3 separate regions of the Homo sapiens genome follow, and regions 2 and 3 are each linked to region 1. The links come from fine-mapping of genetic effects on gene expression. A gene starts in region 1. Each other region holds a variant in brackets. All regions are shown on one strand. Distances are from middle to middle.

Region 1 (8,184 bases):
TCTTTTAATTTATGTAAGAACTTATTTTAAAAAACTGTTAAAACAAAACAGCATTTATTTTTGCCAAATCTACACCCCTGCATTTATTCACATCTTTTTTCCCCTCATAAAAGTAGTACCTGCTCATTAAACTAGAAAAACACTGAATATAGTAAAAAGAAAATAAAGTTGTTCATATTCATAGTCACTCTAAAATCTAGGTACTGGTCAACCTTTTGTTTTCAGACATTTTTGTTTTGCTTATTGTAAAAATATGATGCATATTCATTCAACAAATATTTATAGATGATTTACTTTGTGCTCGGTACCTTGAGAGGTATTGAGGCAGGCTCTGATTTCCCAGTAACTAAAATAGACAAACTTCTACCTTAAGTGTATTTTATAATAATCTGTTTTTGTATTTTAGCTTGCTTTTCACAACTGTTATTTTAATAATGGCAAATTTAATTATGTGGGTGAATCAGTATGTGTAATCATTTGCATATTGTTGGACATTTCCAGTTTTTCAGTATCATTTTTCTCACTTTTAGAATGTTTCCTTGAAGTACATTTCTTTTGAAATGGAGAAATCTGGTCAAAGGGTATGGCCACATTTAAGGCTCCTGAAAAAAATTTCCAAATTCCTTTTCGAAACATGTACCAATTTTCATTCCTACTAGAAATGGACAAAGGGATTTTTTAAAAAACAATTTGCCAGGAATTATTATAATAACTAAAAATTGTTTTTGTTATTTTGATAGATATTTCATTTCAACTTTCCTTTCTGGATAACTAGCAAGACTACATTTTTGTTATAATGTTAAATATTTCTTTAAAAATTTTTGCCTTTTGACATACTAAGGTGCTCACGGTTTTGTTTCATGTGTACAGGCTCCTTACCATGACATGAGCCTTTTTTGGTATATACCTTCCCTGAGAGTTATCTCAAAAGAGAAATACAGAAAATAATCACTGAGTTATCTGACGTCAAACCAAGGCTTATGCACCTTTCCAACTCCAGGGCCCAGCCCTTGGTGTAGGACACAGCAGGTTTTCCCCTCAGGATGCAGTGGAAGTGCACCCAGATGTCAAGCGGCACATTGGATTCTGGGGGTCCAAAGACACTGGGACTAACAATGACAAACAAGGCTGTGTAAACTAAGGCTGAGCCAAGAAATACCTTCCTAGTAAACCAATCCAGTCTTTATGGGTAGAGAAAGAAAATTTCTTAGCCAGAGAACTGAGGATACAAGTAACTGGAAAGCATCAGAAACAGCCAGTAAAAATGAAGGGACTCTTAGAAAAGTTATTGACTGGAAGGAAACAAAGTACCTTAAAATCAACAAAATAAATTCATATTTATTCTACATTTTTTACATGTGAGGGATGCTGCTGGTCATGGTGGATAAGTAGAGGTCTATACCCCAGCTTACATAATCATTCAATTCAGAAACTTCTTAGGTAACTCAGTGATAGATCCTGTGAAATTCTTAGTTATACATACTCACAGTTATGTACACAGATAACACTGAGACTCATTGAAAGGCGCAGGAAAAAGCATCTCCCAAACTAGGGAGGTGCAAAGGATTCTGGGGTCTGCCTTATTTGCCCTTAGGCAGGCCTCTTTTTGTCACAACATTTGGTGGATAAGGGGATAAGAGATAATCATTGTAATACTGCAATTGGATTCGGCATCTTCCCTCTTACCACTGCCCTTCTCAGGGTTGTGAGAGGCTGGCAGGACCCCACACCAACAAGAGAAAATAAAAGAGACTGAGAGGAAACAATCTTCTTTGTGGTAGCTGGTGTCTGCTTGTGGAACTATTCTGAGGGACCTTATGGGAAAAGGGCCCTTTTTATATTTTATGAAATAATTGCATTAGGTCAAATTTGTATGCTTCCAAGAGTGCCTGTGAAACATGATCCTTAATTTCAAGGATTGACATAGCAAAAACAAGAGAGAAAAAATAATTACAAAACAGGTTGTCACACAAGGAAGAACTAAACATTAGAAACAATTTACACCTTACAAGTTACTTCTGGTGGAGGTGATGCCAAGTCACCTGGGAGAGGAGCTGTGAGCTGAAATCATTTGAGCAACCCCTTGAGTCAGCTGAATGAAGGCAGCCAGGCACCTCACATTGTAGGGGCAGGGCACTACTGCCCCTAACCTTATGGAGCCATTCATTATCTTTACGGTGACTTTAACAATAGGTATTATTTGTTGAACACCCAAATTCCAGGTATTTTGCCAAGAGCATTATCTATATTATCTACATTATCACTGGCCCTAGTGCTCTCTCCAGGACCAATCTAATGTTTCCTTCTTTGACCTTTACCTCATGCCCCACAATTCCAACCTGAATTAATAGTTCCATTATTAGTTAATTGATGATTAGTAATGCTCTTTTCTCATTCTCTTTACTTCTTTAATACAGCACTTCTCATTCTGCAGGCTACGTTTCTGGCTGCCCCACTGCACAATTGAGCTTGGTTAAGAGCATGACCCATGTTTCACTCCAGTTTCCCAAGCAGTTAGTAGATCCTAAATATTCTGTTGGGTGAATGTTAAGTTAAACTCCATGACTTCAAGTTCGCCAAAGAATCACGGAATCATGGAATTTTTGAGCAGGAGAGGACTTAGAACCTTTGATACAATCTCCTTTTACATAAAAGTAATTGAAATAACTTAACTTGCCTGAGGTCATATGAACTTCGTAGAATGAGGATTAGAATACACTTCCCTGGCTTTTCAACCCAATACTATTTCTTCTGTAGAAGATGTTACCAAACAACTAAATATCTTTCTCCCCTAAGCTCCTTACCCCACTAAATCCTATCAGCAATTGGCCTTTGGGCCTTCAGGCTATTTCTGTTCTTAAATTTCCTAAAAGAACCCATGTTTAACGTACAGCTTTCCTTTTCTGTCTCCCCATTCCAAACAAAGCAAAGCTTCAACTCCAAATTGGCTGGCTTTTGCTGTAACATCACATCGTGTAAAGCTGGGGGAAAATTCTGCTTTTATTTTCACTAACAAGCTTTTCCCACAAGCACTCTTTGACCCAGCCAAATCAAAATGCTTGTCCACACACAGACCATGATCTTTTTTGAGGCATGAGATATTCTATCTGTTCATTCTGAGTGGAATATCCTTACTACTTATGAACCTAGCGAACTTTAATGAACTGTTCCCCTTCTGGACTAGGAGCTCTTAGCACAGAGTAGAGACCTGGCTTTAGTCACACAGCAATTGAATGAGTGTATGTCCAGCACCTAGCAACATATAGCCCTCAATAAAGTTAACTGAATGACTGTGTCTTTGGAAAATTATGGAAATGTAACTTACTCTTTAGAGTTGCTATCAAGCCTTTACCAAAAGTTTTCTATTAGGAGAAATAGTAAGCAAATACGTTGGCTCACTCAGTCTTTTCTTCTTTCCCTTAACTCTATACATCTTTTGACTGCCATTCTCACTCCCTTTGTGAACTGCACATTCTCACAGCACCCCTGCCCCTGGACACTTGTGGGAGAGGAATCCACAAATTCCTTTGAGGCTCCATCACCGGAACAAGTTCTCAGTAGCTGGAGAAGGCCTGGGTGGCAAACAGGAAGTTTTTGTATTCTGGCTACTTTGTGCCGTGGGGTAAAAACCGCAGAGTCCACCTGGAGACTGCAAAAAGAATGGTAGAACAAACAAAACTGTCACTATCTCCACCTAAAGCTTTTCTGGGTGGACATTCTGACTCAACATCACTCAGAACTTTTCTTTCCAGAACTGGCTCCTCATGTGCAAGACAGAAGAGTCCCGCAGAAAAGTGTCATGTTTTAGCTCTCATCGCCACCCCCCAACCCCAAACTCTTCTCCTTCACTTTTAAGAATGTTGAGCGGGACATTTTAAACACTGTTTTGGATTTTTAAGGTTTCAAATAATCCGAAGGACACTTCCCTTTGGCAGCGACAGTTGCAAGCTATGAGCCAAAAAGAAATAGAGGTTGTTCCCCTAATCTCCAAATACATTCTACCCTCTTCAATTCCCAGGACCCCAACTTGTCCCTTCCTCCAGCTTACGCGAGGGGCAAGTGGCAGCTCTTCTCCGCCTGCGTGCCTGGCCTCGTCAACAACACCCATTAGTCTCCCGTCTCCCGGGGCGGCGGGGGACTCCCAACCACGCGCCCAGGGCCCTTGCCCAGGTACTGGGGCCCCGGGAGCCACGACGGCCCCCGCGCAGGCGGATGGGATGGAACCAGCCCTGGGGACGCGGGTAGCCCAATGGGCAGCCTCGCCCCGGAGGCGGGCCCAGGCCGGAAGCCACCCCGCGGCACAGCGGCCCCGCGATACGGTGCCCGCGCCCCCGCCTTCTCTGGCACAGGCTCCGCGGCCAAGGGCGGCAGGGGCCAGCCCGCCGGGTCCCCGCCGCGCTCTTTGTCCTGGCCGCGCGCGGGCGGACGCGTGCACCCCCAGGGTGAGGGGAGGTGTGGAGAGCGCGCACGGGAGCGCGCGGGAACAGCTCGCGCCCGCCGGGCGTCGGCGGCGCGCGCCCCTCCGCCAGGCAAGCAGCGAGCACGCGCGTCGCCGCCGCGCCCGCCCCTCCCCCCCGCGCTCGCCTCGGAACTTGCTGACTGCGCGGCCGGGAGGAGCCGAGCCGGGCGGCGGCGGCGGGAGGCTACAGCGCGCGGGGGTCTCCCGCGTCCCCTCCGCCTCGCCGGGAGCTCGCGCCCTCGCCCAGCCGAGCTCCCACCCCCGCTTTTTTCCGAAGGCGCTGGGCGGCGCCACCCTCCGGCCGGAGCCCGGCACTGCACAACCCCCTCCGACTTTCAATGTTCCACACTCCCCGGCCAGAGCCTCCTCGGCTTCTTTTTTTCCCTCCCCCCCCTTCCCCCCCCCACAGCTGCCTCCATTTCCTTAAGGAAGGGTTTTTTTCTCTCTCCCTCCCCCACACCGTAGCGGCGCGCGAGCGGGCCGGGCGGGCGGCCGAGGTAAGGCGGCGGGGCCGGGGGGCCGCGTGGGGGGCGGCCGGGGCGGCGGCGGCGGTGGGGGAGGGGGCGGGGGCGGGCAGCTTTGTTCGCGCCGGGCGCCCGCGTCGCCGGTGTCCGCGAGCCGCGGCGGGGCCGGCTGGGCTGCTCGCATCACTTGGCGCCCGGCGCGGCGAGCGCTACCCGCGGCCCCCGCGCGGCCCTCCCCACAAAGGGCCGCGGAGCTGCGTGGCCGCCGCCGCCGGCCGTGGCTCGCCTCCGCGGGCGCGGAAATTTGTTGCACTTCTTGGGGCTTTGTTTATTTGTTTGTTTTTTCTCTGGGTTTCTTATTTTTTTCGTTATTTTGGACAAAATGTCGGTCCGTGATATAAAAATTGAGCGAGGAACCTTGGTGGCATTGGGAGCTTTGCAGAAGGTGCAGTTTGAATTCTGCTTTTCCCAGGGTGGCAGCTCGGTCTTGGCCGGATGAATCTTCGCTGCTGGCCGTGGAAACAGCTAGAGCAGCTCGTTAGTTGATTTTTAAATTTCCAAGTGTTGTGTTTAAAGGCTTTACGTGCACTGAGGAGGAATCGCCACCTTAAATAAGCATATGGGCGATTAACAGGGTGTGTTTTCCTCTCGGAAAGGGAATTTGGTAGCTTTGACCAATGTCAGTGTGTAAATATTTAGACGTTATTAGTGACTTTTAAACATTTTTCAGCGAGATCTGTTATTTACAGTGTGTCATATGTTATTAATGCTTGTTGCCTAAGTTCCTTGGCAAATCTGTTTCATGCCTTCTGAGAAAGTAGACAATTGATAGATTGTCCAAGAGACGGAAAAAAATGTGAGTGGGTTTTCTAACTTGAGTTCGGCAAATCCCTTAACGCTGGCGTTGTGTGACACATCACCTCCCTTGTACGTACCCCTGTTGTACGATGAAATAAGTGTGAACACTTTTGAAGCTTTTTCATTACAAGACGATTTTAGATGACTAGAAGAAAATGCTGTTGGTTTATTTCCTAGATTTAACATTTTCTCCTCCTCCTCCCCTGTTCTCTTTAAAAGTTTTCCAAGAGATAACTTCACCAAGATGTCCAGTGATAGGCAAAGGTCCGATGATGAGAGCCCCAGCACCAGCAGTGGCAGTTCAGATGCGGACCAGCGAGACCCAGCCGCTCCAGAGCCTGAAGAACAAGAGGAAAGAAAACCTTCTGCCACCCAGCAGAAGAAAAACACCAAACTCTCTAGCAAAACCACTGCTAAGTTATCCACTAGTGCTAAAAGGTAATGTGTAAAAGAAGGATCCAGCACACTTTGTCAGGTTGTCTTCCAGGTGGTTGGACGCTTTTGTTGGTTTTACCTCAATAGCAGTAGTTCAGAAATATTTACTTCATTATCAGTTTAATTGTACTTGAATGAGTTGTCATTCTTTAGGTGGTATGTAAGCAACATTACTAGAATTATACTTTTAAGCAAACTTAATTCTGTACTTCGGTAACTTCAGTTAAGAGTGTCCTTGAGTAGAGATTAGACTAACATTCTGACAGATTGTTTAAGGAGTTGGCAAGGAAAATTTGGTGAACCCAAATTAGATGGTACTTTGGGGATGTTCCTTTTATGAGTCATAATCTTCTTTAATGAAATTGACACTTCCAGAGATTAGCAGTGCCTCTCTTCATGAAACTTAATGATCAGAAATGATCATATTTGCTAGAAAATTTGCAAATTCAGGCCTTTGCTATATTTGAAAGCAGATTTAAAATTGTGCTGCAAATCTGCTTACAGTTTTACAAAACATGACTTTCAATCGTATATCACAGGTAACTTTCCTGGTTAAATTATGATTATCCCTTCCTGTGCTTGTGAGGGCAAATCAAACTGAAAAGTAGCCCTTTACAATTTGAGGTGTCACTAGTGATAGAAAACTTGCATTGTCCTTGGGCCTCTTCACTCTGAAACTTGTGGATGTGCTTGACAAGTTAATACTCAACAGCAGGAGAAACATATTTAATTGGATGTAAGTGAAAGATCATTTGTTTCCTATTGATTGATGTTTTCTGATGGAGAAAAAAAGATTCTGTCAATGAGACTCTTATCAGTGGTAGTAGTAGTGGAATATCCACAAACTCTAGTAATTATACATAAAATGTATAATGTTTACAGCATTAACCAATTTTGACATTTTGTTAATTTTTATTGATAACTAAAGGAAAAAGAATATAAAAACTGATCAAATATTGCATTCTGTGGTGATTCATAAATACTCATATTTTTCTATGGATTTTCACCCTTATTGTCTCAGTAATGAAGTATTAATAACTTGATAATATTTTTGAATGGCAGCAGTCTTTGACATAATTTAAAATTCTCAATTTGGTATAGTGTTGATGCGGAACATATTAGACACATCTAAAGTTTTGAAATCATCTTAAATTTGAATCAAATCAGAGAACTGCTTTTCTCCCCCTTAACTCAGGCCTATGTATTTTCTCCTCTTTCTCTCAATGTTTATTAAATTTAAGTGCTGTACCTAAAATCAGGGAAAACAGAAATGGTTAAATTAGAATGTCAAGTAGTCTTTGAAAGTTTTTCACAAGTAAAGATATTTGTAAATTTTAAACTTTTTTTTTGACAGATAAAATATTGTCAGAACTGTTAATGTGCTCTTGCAGTAGCCTGTTAATTTTTACCTCAGTAAAAGTCACTTCAAGTCCTTGTCAAATATTCCAGTGCTTTCCCTCCTCCCTTTTTGTCTCATTTGCATATAAGCTTGAAAAGAGAATTTCTTTGGTAAAAAGTGTTTTGAAATAGATATTATATTCTTTACTGAGTACTAGTGGATGAGTATTTCTCCAATCAAGTGTAAATGACTTACTTGTTTGCAGCAGCAAGTGAGAAAAAAAGCTGCAAAGTTTCTGTTAAGGGATTTGGGTTATGCCTCTGAGAACAAAGAGGAAGCAGCCATGTTAGCATTACTGAAGGCAGAGCCAGCCTTGCATTTAACTGCATGGTGGTAGAGGGCAGTGTAATTCCCTGGTTATTCTGTAGACTATATCAAATCCTTTTTGTCTCTTCTCATTTCACTAACAGAATTCAGAAGGAGCTAGCTGAAATAACCCTTGATCCTCCTCCTAATTGCAGGTAAGAAATGAATTTTGTTGTTTTGGTTTCAAATTGTGGAAAAATACCAAGAGATTGATGTATTGTCTGGATATGTGTGCAGCAGAGGAGACAACATTTGCTTCTTTA
Region 2 (8,184 bases), 420 kb before region 1:
CACAGAGAGTGAGGAAAAGCAGGGTGGTGCAAGGGCCCACCTGGGAGCCACAGGGGGAAAGGGGAGCTCCCACCCCCAGCCAAGAGAGGTGGTCAGTGATTGTGCTACCCGACCCAGGAAACCACGCTTTTTCCACGGATCTGTGCAACAGCCGGATCAGGAGATCCCCCTAGTGAGCTCACGCCACCAGGGCCTTGGGTCCCAAGGACAGAGCTATGCAAACTCTCAGCAGCCATTTGGCCGGAGACTACCTAAAACTACCGAGTTCACTGCGGCTGCCTGCTGCCTAAGATGACTCAGCTCCTGGGGGGAGAGGCGCAGCCATCACTGCGGCTCCAGTCTGCCATTTTTTTCCCCTGCCAGTACGGTGGAGACTGGACAATTTCGACCCAGGAGGAATTCCGCACAGTGGCTGTGGCAGATCGTGGCCAGACTGCCTTTTTAGGCCGGACCCTAACCCATGCCTCCTCACTGGGTGGGGTCTGCCTGCGGGAATTTCAGCAACTCCAGCAAGGGCTTTATGGATAGAACCCTGAATTATCTGGGACGAAGCCCGTAGGGGGAGGAGCAGCCAGTTTTTGCAGATCAGCCGACTTAGTCTTTCCCCCCTGCTGGCTCTGAGGAATCCAGGCAGTCTGGATGAGCGGAATTTCCCCCAGTGCAGTGCACCCTCTCCACCAATGGGCAGCCAGAGTGCTTCGTTAAGTGGGTCCTGGATCCCTTGTCTCCTGACTGGGTGAGACCCGCCCCCCATCAAAAGGGGTAGACAGACACCTTATACAGAAGTGTTCCCTTTGGCATCAGGTCAGTGCCACTCTGGGTCAGAGATCCAAGAGGAAGGAGCAGGCTGCCATCTTTGCTGTTCTGCAGCCTCCACTAGTAACACCTCTAGATGCAGAAGGGATAGGGTCTGAACTGGATCTCCAGCAAACCACAGCAGTCCTACGGAACAGGGTCCTGATTGTTAAACAAACAAACAGAAAGCAGCAGCAACAACAACAACAGCATCAACAAAATGTCCTCACAAGAGCCCCATCCAAAGGTCAGCAGCCTCAAAAATCTAAGCTAGGTAAACTCATGGAAGATGAGAAAGAATCAATGAAAAAACACTGAAAACTCAAAAAGCCACAGCGCCTCTTCTCCTCCAAATGATCACAACACCTCTCCAGCGAGGGCACAGAACTGGGCAGAGGCTGAGATGGATGAATTCACAGAAGTAGGCTTCAGAAGCTGGGTAATAATGAACTTCATTGAACTACATGAGCATGTTCTAACCCAATGCAAAAAAGCTAAGAACCATGATAAAACATTACAGGAACTGTTAACCAAAATAGCCAGGTGAGAGAGGAACACAAATGACCTGATGGAGGTGAAAAACACAACCTGAGAACTTCACAATGCAACCGCAAGTATCAATAGCTGAATAGACCAAGTGGAGGAAAGAATTTCAGAGCTTGAAGACTATCTTGCTGAAATAAGACCGACAGACAAGGTCAGAGAAAAAAATAATGAAAATAAATGAACAAAACCTCCAAGAACTATGGGATTATGTAAAAAGACTGAAGTTACGACTGATTGGGGTACCAGAAAGAGATGGAGAGAATGAAACCAAGTTGTAAAGCACACTTCAGGACATCATCCAGGAGAACTTCCCCAACCTAGCAAGACAGGCCAACATTCAAATTCAGGAAATCCAGAGAATCCCAGTAAGATACTCCACGGGAAGATCAACCCCAATCACATAATCATCAGATTCTCAAAGGTCAAAATGAAGGAAAAAAAAAATGTTAAGGCAGCCAGAGAGAAAGGACAGGTCACCTACAAAGAGAAGCTCATTAGACTAACAGCAGATCTCCCAGCAGAAACCCTACAAGCCAGAAGAAATTTGGGGCCAATATTTAACATTCTTAAAGAAAATAATTTCCAACCCAGAATTTTATATCTAGCCAAGCAAATTTCATATCTAGTTTCATAACCAAAGAAGAAATAAAATCATTTTCAGACAAGCAAATGCTGAGGGAATTTTTCACCACCAGGCCCGCCTTGCAAGAGCTCCTGAATGAAGCACTAAATATGGAAAGGAAAAAACTGGTACCAGCCAGCCACTGCAAAAACACACTGAAATACAAAGACCAATGACACTGTAAAGAAATTGCATCAACTAGTATGCAAAATAACCAATCAGCATCATGATAACAGGATCAAATTCACACATAACAATATTAACCTTAAATAAAAATGAGCTAAATGCACCAAGTAAAAGACAGAGACTGGCAGATTGGATAGAGTCAAAGCTCATCAGTGTGCTGTATTCAAGAGACCCATCTCATGTGCAAAGATACACATAGGCTCAAAATGAAGGGATAAAAGAAAATTTACCAAGCAAATGGAAAGCAGAAAAAAACAGGAGCTGCTCTCCTTATTTCTGACAAAACAGACTTTAAACCAACAAAGATCAAAAAAGACAAAGAAGGGTATTACATAATGATAAAGAGATCAATTCAACAAGAAGAGTTAACTATCCTAAATATAGTTAACCCAATACAGGAGCACCCAGATTCATGAAGCAAGTTGTTAGAGACCTACACAGAGACTTAGACTCCCACACAATAATAGTGGGAGACTTTAATACCCCACTGTCAATACTCGACAGATCATTGAGACAGAAAATTAACAAGGATATTCAGGACTGGAAATCAGCTCTGGAACAAGTGGATGTGACAGAAAATTTTTGCATTCTATCCATCTGACAAAGTTCTAATATCCAGAATCCATAAGGAATTTAAGCAAATTTACAAGAAAAAAATGAACAGCCCCATTAAAAAGTGGGCAAAGGACATGAACAGACACTTCTCGAAAGAAGACATTTATGTGGCAAACAAACATATGAAAAAAAGCTCAACATCACTGGCCATTAGAGAAATGCAGATCAAAACCACAATGAGATACCATCTTAGACCAGTCAGAATGACGATTACAAAAAGTCAAGAAACAACAGATGCTGGTGAGGCTGCGGAGAAACAGAAACACTTTTACACTGTTGGTGGGAATGTAAATTAGTTCAACCATTGTGGAAGACAGTATAGTGACTCCTCAAAGATCTATAGCCAGAAATACCATCTGACCCAGCAATCCCTTTACTGGGTATATACCCAAAGGAATATAAATTATTCTACTATAAAGATACATGCACGTGTATGTTTACTGCAGCACTATTCACAAAAGCAAAGACAGGGAATCAACACAAATGCCCATCAATGATAGAATGGATAAAGAAAATGTGTTACATATGCACCATAGAATACTATGCAGCCATAAAAGGAATGAGATCATATCCTTTGCAGGGAGATGGATGGAGCTTGAAGCTGTTATCCTCAGCAAACACAGGAGCAGAAAACCAAACACTGCATGTTCTCACATAAAAATGGGAACTGAGCAATTAGAACATATGGACACAGGAAAGGGAACAACAAACACAGGCGTCCTTTCAGGGGCAGGGGGAGAGAGGAATATCAGGATGTGGGGCTTAATACCTAGCTGGTGGGTTGATAGGTGCAGCAAACCATCATGGCACATGATTACCCATGTAACAAATCTGCACATCCTGCACATGTATCCTGGAACCTAGAATAAAATAAAATTAAATAAAAAACCTATTTCTAAAATTGAATCTAAACACTAAATTGATAAAACTGAAGAAGTGATTTCACAATCACTAAAAAAGTTTGCATGTATAGCAAAGGAGAGAATAAACTTCACTCTCCCCAGAACATGAGAAAAGACATACAACTTAATATGACTATAGTAAGCTATTGTTTATTATATTAATGTGAATAGATTAGTTTCCTCTACTTACAAAAACATAATCATCATATTAGACCAAAAGGAGAATTGAAATATATGCTCTTTATTAAAGATCTACTAGAAAGTAACACAAAGTTATTGTTTAAATGTGATAAGCAGAAATATAAAATAAATAGAAAGAAAGCATGTGTTAATAATGTTAATACCAAAAAAGTTAGAATTCAATGGAAAAACTTTCCATGGGGCAAAGAAAAATGTTTGTTATTCAAACAGGTTAACTGTGAGCTCACATTTATGTTCCCCTGACAAGAGTACTGATAAATACATAAAGCTTCATGAGTAAAACAACAACAGAAAGTTCTCTGAGTCTTTGGCAGATCAAATGGATAAAAAGTAGAACATGAAATCAAGGAATTGAATAATAAAATGAATAATATTTATTTCATACATTTATCTACCTTTTTATAGTACACGTAAATTATTGTACTATAAATGCCATGGAAAGTTTACAAAATATAACTTGAACTAGACCCAAAGAGAATCTAAAAAAATTTTATAAACATACGAATCAGTACAGAACACACTCTGATCAGGTGGGTGGTGGCCATGAGAATTCACCTCACAGAAATCCAGGCATAGGGCACATAACCGAATGAGGTCTGGGATGCTACACTTTGAAATCTATCACCTCATTTGCACCAAGGCCATGCATCCCACAAGCCCTTCTACAACAAAGGCTGAGTGCGGTTGTTATAGTTAGGAAGATTTATGCCTGGGAGATTGAGGACTACATTTTCAGCTAACTGACTCCAGGAGTCCTCAAAAGCGCTGTCGAAACTTCAAAACTGCACAGTAGTAGTCTAGGATACTTTGCCAACAGTTCCCACCCTCTCTCACTCAGGGTCAGCATTGCATTGCTGTATGGTAGCTCTCCCAGCTTTGCCCAGTTTCCTTCCTGTTTCCCTTCACGCGAGCATGTCCTCTAATTAAATCTTTGTACATTAATCCTGTCTTGGCATCTTGTTCTTGGATATCTCAGCCTAACACAAAATGTAATAAGATTAGAATTATTGCCAATAGCATACACAGAAATAGCAAATAGGTGAATTTTAAAACTAATTGCTAAATAATTTTTTAATCAAAAGAGAAAACTGAAAGTACAATTATACAGTTGCAAACAATACCATG[C/T]GATGAAACTTATAATCAAAGTTGTGTTTAGAAAAACATTTGTAACTTAAATGCTTCTATTAACCAAATAGAAATGAAAATATACCTACCAAAACTAAGAACTCAAGAACATAGAAAAAATAAACACGCCTAAGCACAGTAGGTTGAAGGAATTAATAGGGATTAAAGCAGACATCAATAGAATAGAAAACAAAAATACTATATGTGATAATTATTTTCTTACCAGAGGTGGCTTTTCTCCTCAATTAATTTTAAAAATAAGAAAATATGTGTAGAAAGTTTGAAGGAAAAATGCTGAGTAGTCATAGATAAATAAGGTTTATAAAAATAATTATAATTGAATATTACATGGCACACAATGTTGAAAAACATGATCAGGATTAAACATATAATTTTGAAAGACTTACATTTAACTAAAACTTGTTGAAGATGATATAATAAAACTAAATAGATCAATTTAAAAATTAGCAAGTTATCCTACTCATCTCTAAAGAGACTGGCTCAAAGTTTCAGAGGTCAGTTCTTTGTTTTATTCTATTTTTATTGAGCAATAATAATTGTATATATTTTTATGGGGTATAATGTGATGCTTCCATGCATGCATATATCGTGGAATGAGCAAATTAGGCTAATTAACATATCCATGTCATAGGTGAGTTATTTCAAACATTTTAGTAACATAAGTTATATTTTATTTACAAATGTCTAGAGTATATACAAAGCAGGAAAGGTTATCAATGTATTCAATACATTTTTATAGGCATGATAATAAACCATAACTATAGGGGATGGGAAGGGAGGATCAATCCATATCACTTATAATACCGAGGCAAAAATTGTAGAAAAGGTTTGGCAAATCGGATCAGAGAAGTCAATTTAGAAGAGGTGGTATCAAGAATGAACTGAAGAGTAGGATTTTCACCAGCGGAGCGAGGCATTTGAAACAAGGAAAAGTTAAGTGAGCTGCAGGGGCACAGCACAAAAGACCCACCTAGGTAAAATGACCATGCTTCCCAGTTTCCCTGGCCAGTGCTTGCTTATACTGCTTTCCAGTATAACTGTTAGTAGCATCCTTTTCCACTCATGAAGGTATGCTGGGTCTGGGCATGGTGGCTCACAGCCTTTAATCCCAACACTTTGGGGCAGAAGCAGGTGGATCACCACTCAGGAGATCTAGACCAACCTGAGCAACATGGCAAAATCCCATCTCTACAAAAACTACTAAAATTAGCTGGGCATGGTGGCACCCACCTGTATTCCCAGCTATTCAGGAGGCTGAGGCAGGTGAATCTTTTGAGCCCAGGAAGCAGAGGTTGCAACGAGCCTAGATTGCACCACTGCACTCCCACCTGGGCAACAGAGGGAGATCTTGTGGAAAAAAAAATATTCTAGGGTCTCCATACCTATTTAAAATGCTGAAAGCTGAAAAGAGCATTGTTTTTATTCTAACAACTACAATACAAAAAGCTGAATAAACTATACAATTGTAATTATTTGAACCACAGACCGAAAGATGCAGGGCAACCAAGTAGCCTAAAATCTAATAAAAAGGATGCATCTTCAAGGAAAAATGAGACACAAGCCCATCACAAGCACAGAGCATGGAAGGAAGAGTTGCCGTTACAAATAGATAAAAAATTAACTGAATTTGTTAATGAATTGATAAAGGCTGGTTGTGGGTAGGTGTAAAACCATATAATCCATGGAGCCATAAACACAAGGGGGATTTGCACCCACTCATCCTCTTTTCCATGGAACACAACTAGTGTTGATGAGAAACTCTGATGCCAGGGCAGGAAAACAATAAAAATCGAACTTTGTTTTATGGCTTGGAGGAGGGGAGAGGCCACCACTGCAGGAAAGGCACAAAGCCCTGGCAGAACCATCTTCTCCTGTGAGTTTTAAGCCCTTGAAGAGAGAGCAGTAAGCCCTGTCAACCTCAGGGCACAAATTAAGATCCATTACAGCCTGAGAAAGAGTAAAAGAAAAAAAAACTTTTATTTTTAAGGAAACAGGAAACCATGCTCAACCCTATCACCGGAGCAGCAAGAAAGTCCCACACAAGAACTACCAAAAATATAAGAGGGTTTGCCTGCCAGGGAGGTGAGCAGCAGGATGACTGCCAAAGCTCCATCCCTAAGGCCCAGGGACACAAGGCCAGCCTAAGAATGAGGCTGGAGCAGGACAATAGAGAAACTCCTTTCCACTTCTATAATAAGGTTAGAAAGTCCCAATTCGCAAGCTACAAATGTCTATCTCTGTGACAGCGATAAGAGGATTGAGACACCCACTATGAGGTGCAGGCACAAAGGGAAGGCTGAAAGCCAAGGGTGGAGTAGAAACATTCAGCAAAACGCTCTGGCAACCCAGCTCCCAAGATAAACACAAGATAACCCTCCAGGATTTAAAGTCTGTGATACACTCAAGGAAACAATAGGAACAACAAAACTCAAACCAGCTCAGATATGGAGTAGATTGAGTCAACTGCATGCACTGTTGGTCTAGCAAAGAGGGATGCCCATTTTCAGGCACATATATTATTTCTCCCTGTCCTTACTGGAGCTACTCACAATGAGTGACATTCAATAGAAGAAATAGAAGGCTCACAAACAAGTAAGAAAAAAGAGCCCACTGGAAAGAGATAAAGCAATTAACAGACACCGACTCAGAAATGGCCCAAATATTGGAACTATTGGACAGGAAATTTTAAATATTATTATTAATAAATTATAATTTCTCATGGAAAACATGGTCAACAGCCATGAACAGATGTGGACTTTTGCAAAGAAATGAAAACTATTCAAAAGAGTCAAATAGAAATGCTAAAAAATATCTATCAAAAATGAAGGTGAAATAGTTTTTGAGACAACAGAATACATACATACAAACATACATATATACATATGTAAAAGAATTTAATATCAGCAGAACTGCACCACAGGAAATATTTCAAAAAACAAGCAGACAGAAAACAAAGATGTCTTTAGGCAAAGGAACATGATACTAGACAGAAATTTGAATCTATACACAAGCAGGCAAATGAAGAACTCTAGGAATAGTTAAAATGAAAGTAAATTAAAAAGACACTTTTTATTTTTAATCACTCTAAATCGCTTTTCTTTAGACGTTCAAAAATACGCTAAAGTATCATTGAATGTCTAAAAAACACTGGTAGAAATGCATTAGGGGTTT
Region 3 (8,184 bases), 540 kb before region 1:
TTCTCAGTGAGATCTTTTCTCAACACAGAATTTAAACATCACCATTTACATATCTCCATACCTACTCTTCATATCACTCCTCTGCTTTTATTTTTATTTTTAGAACTTTTTGCTATTTAATGTACTAGTTTTATTATTGTTAAATGTATTATTTCACTTTCTGTCTCCCTGAGTAGAATGAAGACTCTATGAAGACAGGGGTTTATATGTGTTTTGGTTGCTGCTGTATCTCTCCAGTGCCTAGAACAGTTCCTGGCACATTATAGATGCTAATTAATCTCTTGGATGAATGAATAAATTAATTTTATTCATTATAGAATCCCTGTTGGCATACATTTTGTATGCTAAATTATGGATAAAACATTTTAATTTTTTATTCATCCTACAGCATGGAGAATTATTTACAATTCAAACTTTTTTTTAAACTCCATGTAGTGCAAGGTTTTCAATACACTTTGGTGTAAAAATGTTTCAGATATGGAAAATATTTCTTAAAATTCAAAATCTTTTAAGGAAATTAAAAGACAGTAGAATTTTTCCTCTTTGCCTTCTGACTTGGGTGTTGATGTTCTAGCAATTAGAAACTTCATTAGTGGCCATATGGCCAAATGATCTCATTATGGACCTTTGAATTAATTTGCATTTTTATTATGCTTCTGCTTCTAAATTGTATGTACTGTGTTTGATCATTTGTGTACTTTTCAGAGAATTGGAGAATTCTTATTTTATTGAAGAATATATATTTTTAGATGGAACATAAGTAGTATGTGCATTCCAAATTTAAAAATTTTTTAATCACTAGATTATTAACAAAAACAAAAATAAAACCAAGTTATTTGTTTCATTGGATATGCCTCCTAACAATTTCCATGCACTTTTATGAGAAAACCTCTAATATGATAACATTATTTGTTTAGTACGTCAGTTTGGTAAAATTAAAAGAAAAGAAAACTATAAGTTGTTTGTGTCTTTAGGGTAAATTAGTAAGAGTAACATGGACTCCTTAATTCCAGGAAAGTCTCTGAACACTTCTCCCCAATTTCTCTATCACCTCCATACACACACACACAAATTACATATAAGGCCAGGAGGTACCCTCCAACTTGAAAAAAATAGAACAAGACCATCTGTGGTATGGGAGAGAACGGCCCTTCCTGTCCTTTAGTTTCTAGATCTGGCCAGTGACGAGGAAGTAGAGTATTAGAAAAGGTTTAATCATCTCATGGTTTGTGGGCTGTACAGGCTTTTGCTTCTGGGGAGGCCTCAGGAAACTTAAAATCATGGTGGAAGGTGAAGGGAAAGCAGGTACATCTTCACATGGCTAGCAGGAAAGAGAGAGAGAGGGAAGGGGGAGGTGTTACACACTTTCAAACAACCAGATCTGGTTGGAAATCTATTATGAAAACAACAAAGGGGACATCCCTTCTAAAGGGGGAACTCCAAAGGATTCAATCACCTCCCACCAGGCCTCTTTTCCAACACTGAAGATTACAATTTGACATGGGATTTGGGTGGGGACACAGAGTCAAACCATATCAGAGGACTTGGAGATTCCCAGAAGGAAAACAATCAGCCAGGGTAGGAAATTAATAAAATACTCCCCTCCCCTAGTGAATTTTACTATCCAGGAAGGAAAAGGATTGGGTTTTCCATGGGCAGACACAGAGATAGACTTTGAAATACAAAATTAGGGCTCAATTCTTGTGAGACAAAGAAAAGAGGAAGCAGGATTGGCCAGAGGAAGAATTTGAGTGTCATGTATGCCTGACGATGCTTGGGCCAACCTGTCATGGAGCTTCAAGGTATTATTGGTCAGAGTGACCCATGCCAGAGTGAAGTGTCTGGGCCTTTCTAGCCAGGGCTTACTCAGTCACAGAATGTGTCTCAGTCACAGAATGTCCTAAAAAGGCCATGATCTTGGGTGAGGCTTCCTCTCACACCTTCTCTTGGATCACTCAGTTTGAGGAAGCCAATTGCCATGTTGTGAGGTAGCCCACTGGAGAGGCTCACATTGTGAAGAACCTGAGGGACCACATCAGTAAGCTTGGAAGTAGCCCCTCTACACCAACACACACAATAGACCTTTCAGATACACTTGCAGCCCCCAGGTGATAGCTGAACTACAATCCTGGACAGGACTTGAGTGAGAGGCACCAGCGAAGCCATGTGCTAATTCATGATGCACATAAATTTGAGATAAAATTCTTGTTTTATAAGCTGCTAAATTCTGGGGATAGCTTGTAAGCAGCAGTAGATGACTAATCAGTTGAGGCAACCCCAAGGCAGCAAGTCCTTACTTGAAGGAGGATTTGGGTGGCACATCTCTATATCTGTCATAGTCTACCTGTTTTGTCATTTGTATACACATATATTTGAGTAACAGCTCCTCCAGGATTCTGGTGGGCCACTTTTCCTTAGGGGAAATAGAAAAGAAGGAAATTAGCAGAACTAACTACAGTTGCTCTGCTATGGTTGATCTCAGGACCAATATTGCTATTTACTTTATTTCTCCTATACTAGTCATTTTAGGTCCTGCACCATCAGGCACTATGTCTGCTGTCCTTGGTCATGTGTCTGGTAGCATTACTCAGACTGTCCTCCCCAAGAAGTCTGATCTATGGTTACCATGTCCTCCTCATGCCTGCACTGCTGGATCTGTCCATTTACACTTACAGTTGGGCAAGGGATTACTGTGAGGCACTCAACCAAATCATCTGAGTGTCACATGTATTTCTCACTGTCTCCACTGTATAGCAGCAGTCCTAACCCTTAATGATTTAACTCAGTTACTCCTGCTGATATGGTGACTCCTTTTTTCCCCCAAATCTCCAGACAACAGTCATACTAATAATTCTACAGAGCTTTTATTTTGTCCTCTGGTGAAATTGTGACCTTTTTATAGATCAGGGCCTTTAACTCTACAAAGCACCGTTGCAGGGACAGGAAGCACCAAGTTCAAGGATCTTTATTTACTGTAGTACAGGAGCCATTTCTGCTTCTACTTTTTGGTTCTGGAGCCCTTGCATTCTTATCAGACACACAAAGCTGCACAAAATCCTTTGATTCAGTGTGAATACTGCATATCCAGAGAATGGCACCCCAACCTCATAGAGCACTGCCTCTGATTTGGGCTTTAGCTACTCATTTAGCAAGCCATTCCAAGGCTCTATTAGACTAGCAGCATCTGGAGAGAGCTTGTGATACAGCCAGTGAATGTCATGGTATGGGCCCACAGTGGCACTTCCTAT[GTGGTAAA/G]TGGTCTTCTGGTCTGAGGAAGTGTTGTGTTAGATTACATATTAGTGGATCAGAAATTTCATAATCCCTCAGCTAGAATGATGACTAAGGCTTTTGGGCAGAAAAAGCAAATTCATGTCTGGAATACATGTTAAATCTAGTCCTGTGAGCATAAAAGAATGGCACTTCCATAATGGAGGTGGCTTGTACGACTGGTTGGACTCCTTGAAGAATGGTGTTGCATCAAGGGCTCCACACTGATATCTGGTGTTGGTAGGGTAGAAATTCAGCAGCTAAATTGGACTTCAAAGGTGGGAGTCCATGCATTGGCACATGCATAATCTCCTTTTCTGCCACTGTGGTCTCTTAATTCATTTTTTCTCTTAGTCAACACTGGGGAGGTTGAATACAGAGGTTGGCTGACACCAACTGCTTGAGTTATTTTGTGTACTTAGTTGATTAGAGTCTTCTGTGATTGATATTCCTTTGTAAGCATTGACATATGACATGTATATTCCCATTTCATGCCCATTCCCATATGCCCATTTCATAGACATCCCATATATATCCATCTAATAGACATCCCATATATCTAACACAGCCTCCTCATCCCCAAACTTTGTTTTCCTTCCATAATCCTGAAAAGTCAGATAGGCCTTTTACCATTGCCCAAGAGTCTGAATACATTATAACTTCACTAATTTTATCCAAAATTAATGAACAGGTACACTATACCTAATATGTTTTTTAGAAGTATTTTCCTTCTTCAATGGGTCATACAAGATCCCCCATACAGCTATAAAAATCAGCTGAGGGAAGGGTTCAGTGGCTGATTCCAACCCTGTTTTTGCATAGTCACTTTCATACTATGATGGGTTGCTCCTGGGTCTACACTAACTTATAAATTGGTGGGTCTCACAGGAGTTAACTAATGATGGACAGTTCTGGCCACATGTTCACTTGGTGAACTATAGTCAGGCATTTCATTTTTACCACAGCTCACTAGCCTGCCTGGAATTATTTTTCAAAAGATGTATAATTGTGCACTGCAGATGGCAAGACTTTGCCCTAAAATTTCAGGGGATCTACTTTGTGGTTCTTCCACTTGGACTTACCATATGACAACTTTTCACACCACTGATACTGCCTGCACCACAGAGCGAGCCAGATCATATGGTCCAAGTGCGAGGGCTGCCTGCACAGCAGTTTGGACCTGTTGTGGAGCTCTTTACTTCTCTGTACACCATTTAAGGCTGACAGTCTTTTATATCATTCTGAATATAGATGTGGAATGCACCAATTTCAGAGATGGAAAAAGCCTACCAGTGTGGTTCTTCTTTATCCACGGTGGATGTACAAGCTATGATAATTTGTATGTTACTTTGGAGAGGATGTCTTGCTACACCTCTAACCATTGAACCCCTAAACATTTTATGGTTGTGGTAGTCCCTAAAATTTATTTCCTTCCCTTTAGAGCACGCATGACTTATTGAGGCCTCACGTATACCAGCCACCGCTTGCTCATCTGGCCCAACCAATAAAAAGTTACCAGTGAAATGGGTCAGTTGGTATTCTACATGATATCTAAATTCTCCTACACACATGACACAGGGCCAGAGAACTAGGATAGTACCATTTTTGGTTATGCATTTCTATGACACTTGGGATATTGTATTGCATTAACTACCTCCATAACTCTTTTCAGCTCAGGTTCTCTTGGGTGCAACCCTGACCTGCCTAATTGTTATAATGATTACAATCCTTTGGTTTCGGAAGTTAAATGCTGCTACCTACTTTTATGTTTTTTGGGGTCCTGTTACCCCTGTTGCTGTCAATAAGCCAATTTATGTAACAAGCTTTCCTATTGTCAACGTTGACTTGAAAAGGAAAGCCACCATTAAACTTTCTGGTACACCTCTTATCACTGCATTCCTGTGTCCTTGGCAAATAGTGTGTCTTCTTGGCCTTCCTATGGAATGTAATCATGTGGTGGTTTTCCAACCTTATGTGATATATTCATTCCAGGATGCCCACTTCCCTGAGCCCTTGATTTCTTTTCTTCACTGTCTGCCATGACAATTCTGACATTTCAACTGATCTCAGAATGGATCATCATTTTTCTATGCTTATAGGAGTTATCCTAGTAGTGAATTCACACTGTAGTGGAATCTTTGCTAGGGTGCATCTGGAGAAAGCGTTCCAAAGTCGATAAGTGCTTGCTAGCTAATTTAATGTTCTGGTCTTCTTGATCAAACATCCTCAGAATCCACTTCTTTTCTTTTTCTTTTTCTTTTTTTGAGATAGTGTCTTGCTCTGTCGCCCAGGCTGGAGTGCACTGGCGTGATCTCGGCTCACTGTCACCTCGACTCCCTGGTTCAAGCCATTCTCCTGCCTCAGCCTCCCGAGTAGCTAGGATTACAGGCATGCACCACTGTGCCCAGCTAATTTTTATATTTTTATTAGAGACGGGGTTTCACCACGTTGGCCAGGATGGTCTTGATCTCCAGACCACGTGATCCGCTCACCTTGGCCTCCCAAAGTGCTAGGATTACAGGCGTGAGCTATCATGCCCGGCCCAGAATTCACTTCTATGCAAATTCTCCTGGCTTCTATAAGTACACATTGGCTAGGTATCACAACAACTTTGGGGTTTTCCCAGAAAACTCACACATTTCCCCCATCCACACATAACAGGCTTGCTGTGGTTTTACATTTAACTTTCTTCGAAATAAAGTCACTTATACTATTAGGTACTGGGTGTGGTTCTCAACTTTCTCTTCCCTCTGCTGTGCGTGAAGAGAAATTCATTGTATTTATGTAACCAAAGAGGTTCACTGGCTTTCATGCCAGGATTTCAGTTGGCTGTCATTTACCCTTTGCTGTATAGTTTCTTTCTGTAGAGCATCCATGGCACTTAGAAATAGTCACACAATTCCATTATCTTTATAGCTACTATTTCTTCCATATTTATCAAATACCAGATAGGCTGAGCCCAGTGTACTCCTTTCTACTAGTAAAACCTCCTAATTAACCTCCAGTGGAAGTTTTAACAACGGCTCTGCCACTTTATGCCACAAGCTATTGGTGCTAAACACCAAACGGTGGTGGTGTCTTCTTCCACATGGGTATGAGTGATTTAGCTTCAAAACAATCTTATTGCCTGCTTTCTCAAACCACTGCTGAGAGCAGCTGTTACTCCTGAGCCACTGAGATGGAGTCTGAGATGCCAGATGTTTATTAGAGATCAACACTTATGACAAGGATTGGAAAGGAGCACTTTTGAAAAGAGGAAGGGGCCAAATTGCAAAGCAGCTTGATGAAGTCTTCACCAACCCTGCAGAAAGTTCTAGAGTGAGTATTGTCCACATCAGAATTTCCTGTGTCAGGCCACAATGGCCAGGCCTTTATATCCCTGCTTTGCCCAGTGACTGGATATTGGCTGACTCCAAAAAGTTGACCCTTGGGCCAGGCAACTCTGCAGCTAAAGCATATCCTAAAAAAGCTAACGGATGAAGGCTATCTGTTGACTATACTTCTTGCAGTTGGGCAGTCTTTCTCTGAAGTGAGATCTGCGTAGCACATTTCCATGTATACTACAGGTAGGCTGGACTGTTAACCAGAGCTCAATAGTCAGATCTTAAGGGATGGTTGTTTTAAACCCTGAATTTACTTCTATTCAGGAAACTTGGCACTGGGGCAAGTGTTGTATTGTGGTAACAGTGATTGGACTTATAAGCTTAAAGCATGAAGGTTTAAGCTATGTTGCTTAAGCATGGAGTACCCTTGACCTTGAATACTACCAGAAGAAGTTGCATTCTCCTTCCTGAAGGAATCAACTGTGGTCTGAGCAGATATATGAGCCAGTAAGATTACTACTGGAGCCAATGGCAGGAAAGCATTAAAACATGCAGAACAACAATCTGTGAATATACTGAAAACTTTTGGATCGTACTCTTTAAATGGATGAATTGTAGTATAAGTTAATTACATCTCAATAAGATTGTTAAACAATTTTTAGAAGTAATTTTCAACCCGTCATTTCTTAACAGCCAAAAAAAGGCAAATCATCCCCAATCTGGCTTTCTGGGAAACTTTTTATAGCCTCAGATAATCACCTGACATCTGTTTCAGAGGAGGGCTGGTTGTTTCACACGAATTAAGCCTCCCAGTTAAGGTAGAGGCGAATGGAGGGGGGAAGGGGGCAGATACTAGAGGTCCTGTTGTTGTTGTTGTTGTTGTTTTTGGCATACAAAGTTTTCCAGAAATTACTTTAAGTATTAAAATGGATGTGATTTAATTTATATCCTAGGGTGGCAAAGAGGGTCAACCAAATACACGTGCTTATATGTTGGTCTTTTTGAAAACATCCTTGGAAAGTTGCCCTTTTCCAGAATGGCTTCCAAGGATCTATTCTGAGCTCTGTGAAGACAGTAAAAACATTCACTGGTGCTTTAAGATTGGTCATTCATTCAGTTGGTCAGTCATCATTCATTCAAAAATCATTTTTGAGGAGTCTACTAAATGTCAGGCGTTCAGCTGGCCACAATGAGTATAGAATTTATTGGGAAGTCCCTGCCATGATAGAGGGAAAGATATAGGAATTTAAAATATAGTGTATTTTGCTGTATTTTATAATAGATGCATGAAGAGAGTGCTTATGGGGGCAGAAAAGACTAAAGTCCTTTTGCTCTTTTGTTTAAATCACTTGCAATAAAAATTATGCTTACAAAAATTGTATTTGTCTTATAAAACTCCAATGGTTTCATGACAGTAATTACCTCTTCTTTTCCTTTCTCTCACTTTTCCCTTCCAGTTGCCTTCTGGGCTCTTCTAGGTCTACTTAAGAATCATAAAACCGGCTTATAGAAAAATATACTGACCTAGGTATACATTATCAGGAAAACACCAGACTAAGTAACCAAAGGAGAGACTGGGATCTTATGCTGGAAA

The links. PIP is the estimated chance that this variant, and not a neighbour inherited with it, causes the effect.
Region 2: its variant is fine-mapped to the expression of UBE2E3 in whole blood (TOPMed, PIP above 0.99).
Region 3: its variant is fine-mapped to the expression of UBE2E3 in whole blood (TOPMed, PIP above 0.99).

What each region holds. Positions count from the first base shown.
Region 1 is chr2:180,976,018-180,984,201 of GRCh38, forward strand. UBE2E3 (ubiquitin conjugating enzyme E2 E3) reads left to right here and starts at 4,588. Exons shown (of 6, transcript NM_006357.4): 1 at 4,588-4,956; 2 at 6,001-6,219; 3 at 8,026-8,076. The coding sequence starts at 6,026. It overlaps UBE2E3-DT (UBE2E3 divergent transcript), which reads right to left and starts at 4,995. Exons shown (of 2, transcript NR_187176.1): 1 at 4,049-4,995; 2 at 1,313-3,649. RefSeq lists a silencer at 4,006-4,865.
Region 2 is chr2:180,555,281-180,563,464 of GRCh38, forward strand. No RefSeq gene overlaps it. Among named protein-coding and RNA genes, the nearest start is that of SCHLAP1, 130 kb to the right of the region's middle. The variant C/T (reference allele first, on the strand shown) is at 4,993.
Region 3 is chr2:180,440,769-180,448,952 of GRCh38, forward strand. No RefSeq gene overlaps it. Among named protein-coding and RNA genes, the nearest start is that of SCHLAP1, 250 kb to the right of the region's middle. The variant GTGGTAAA/G (reference allele first, on the strand shown) is at 3,249.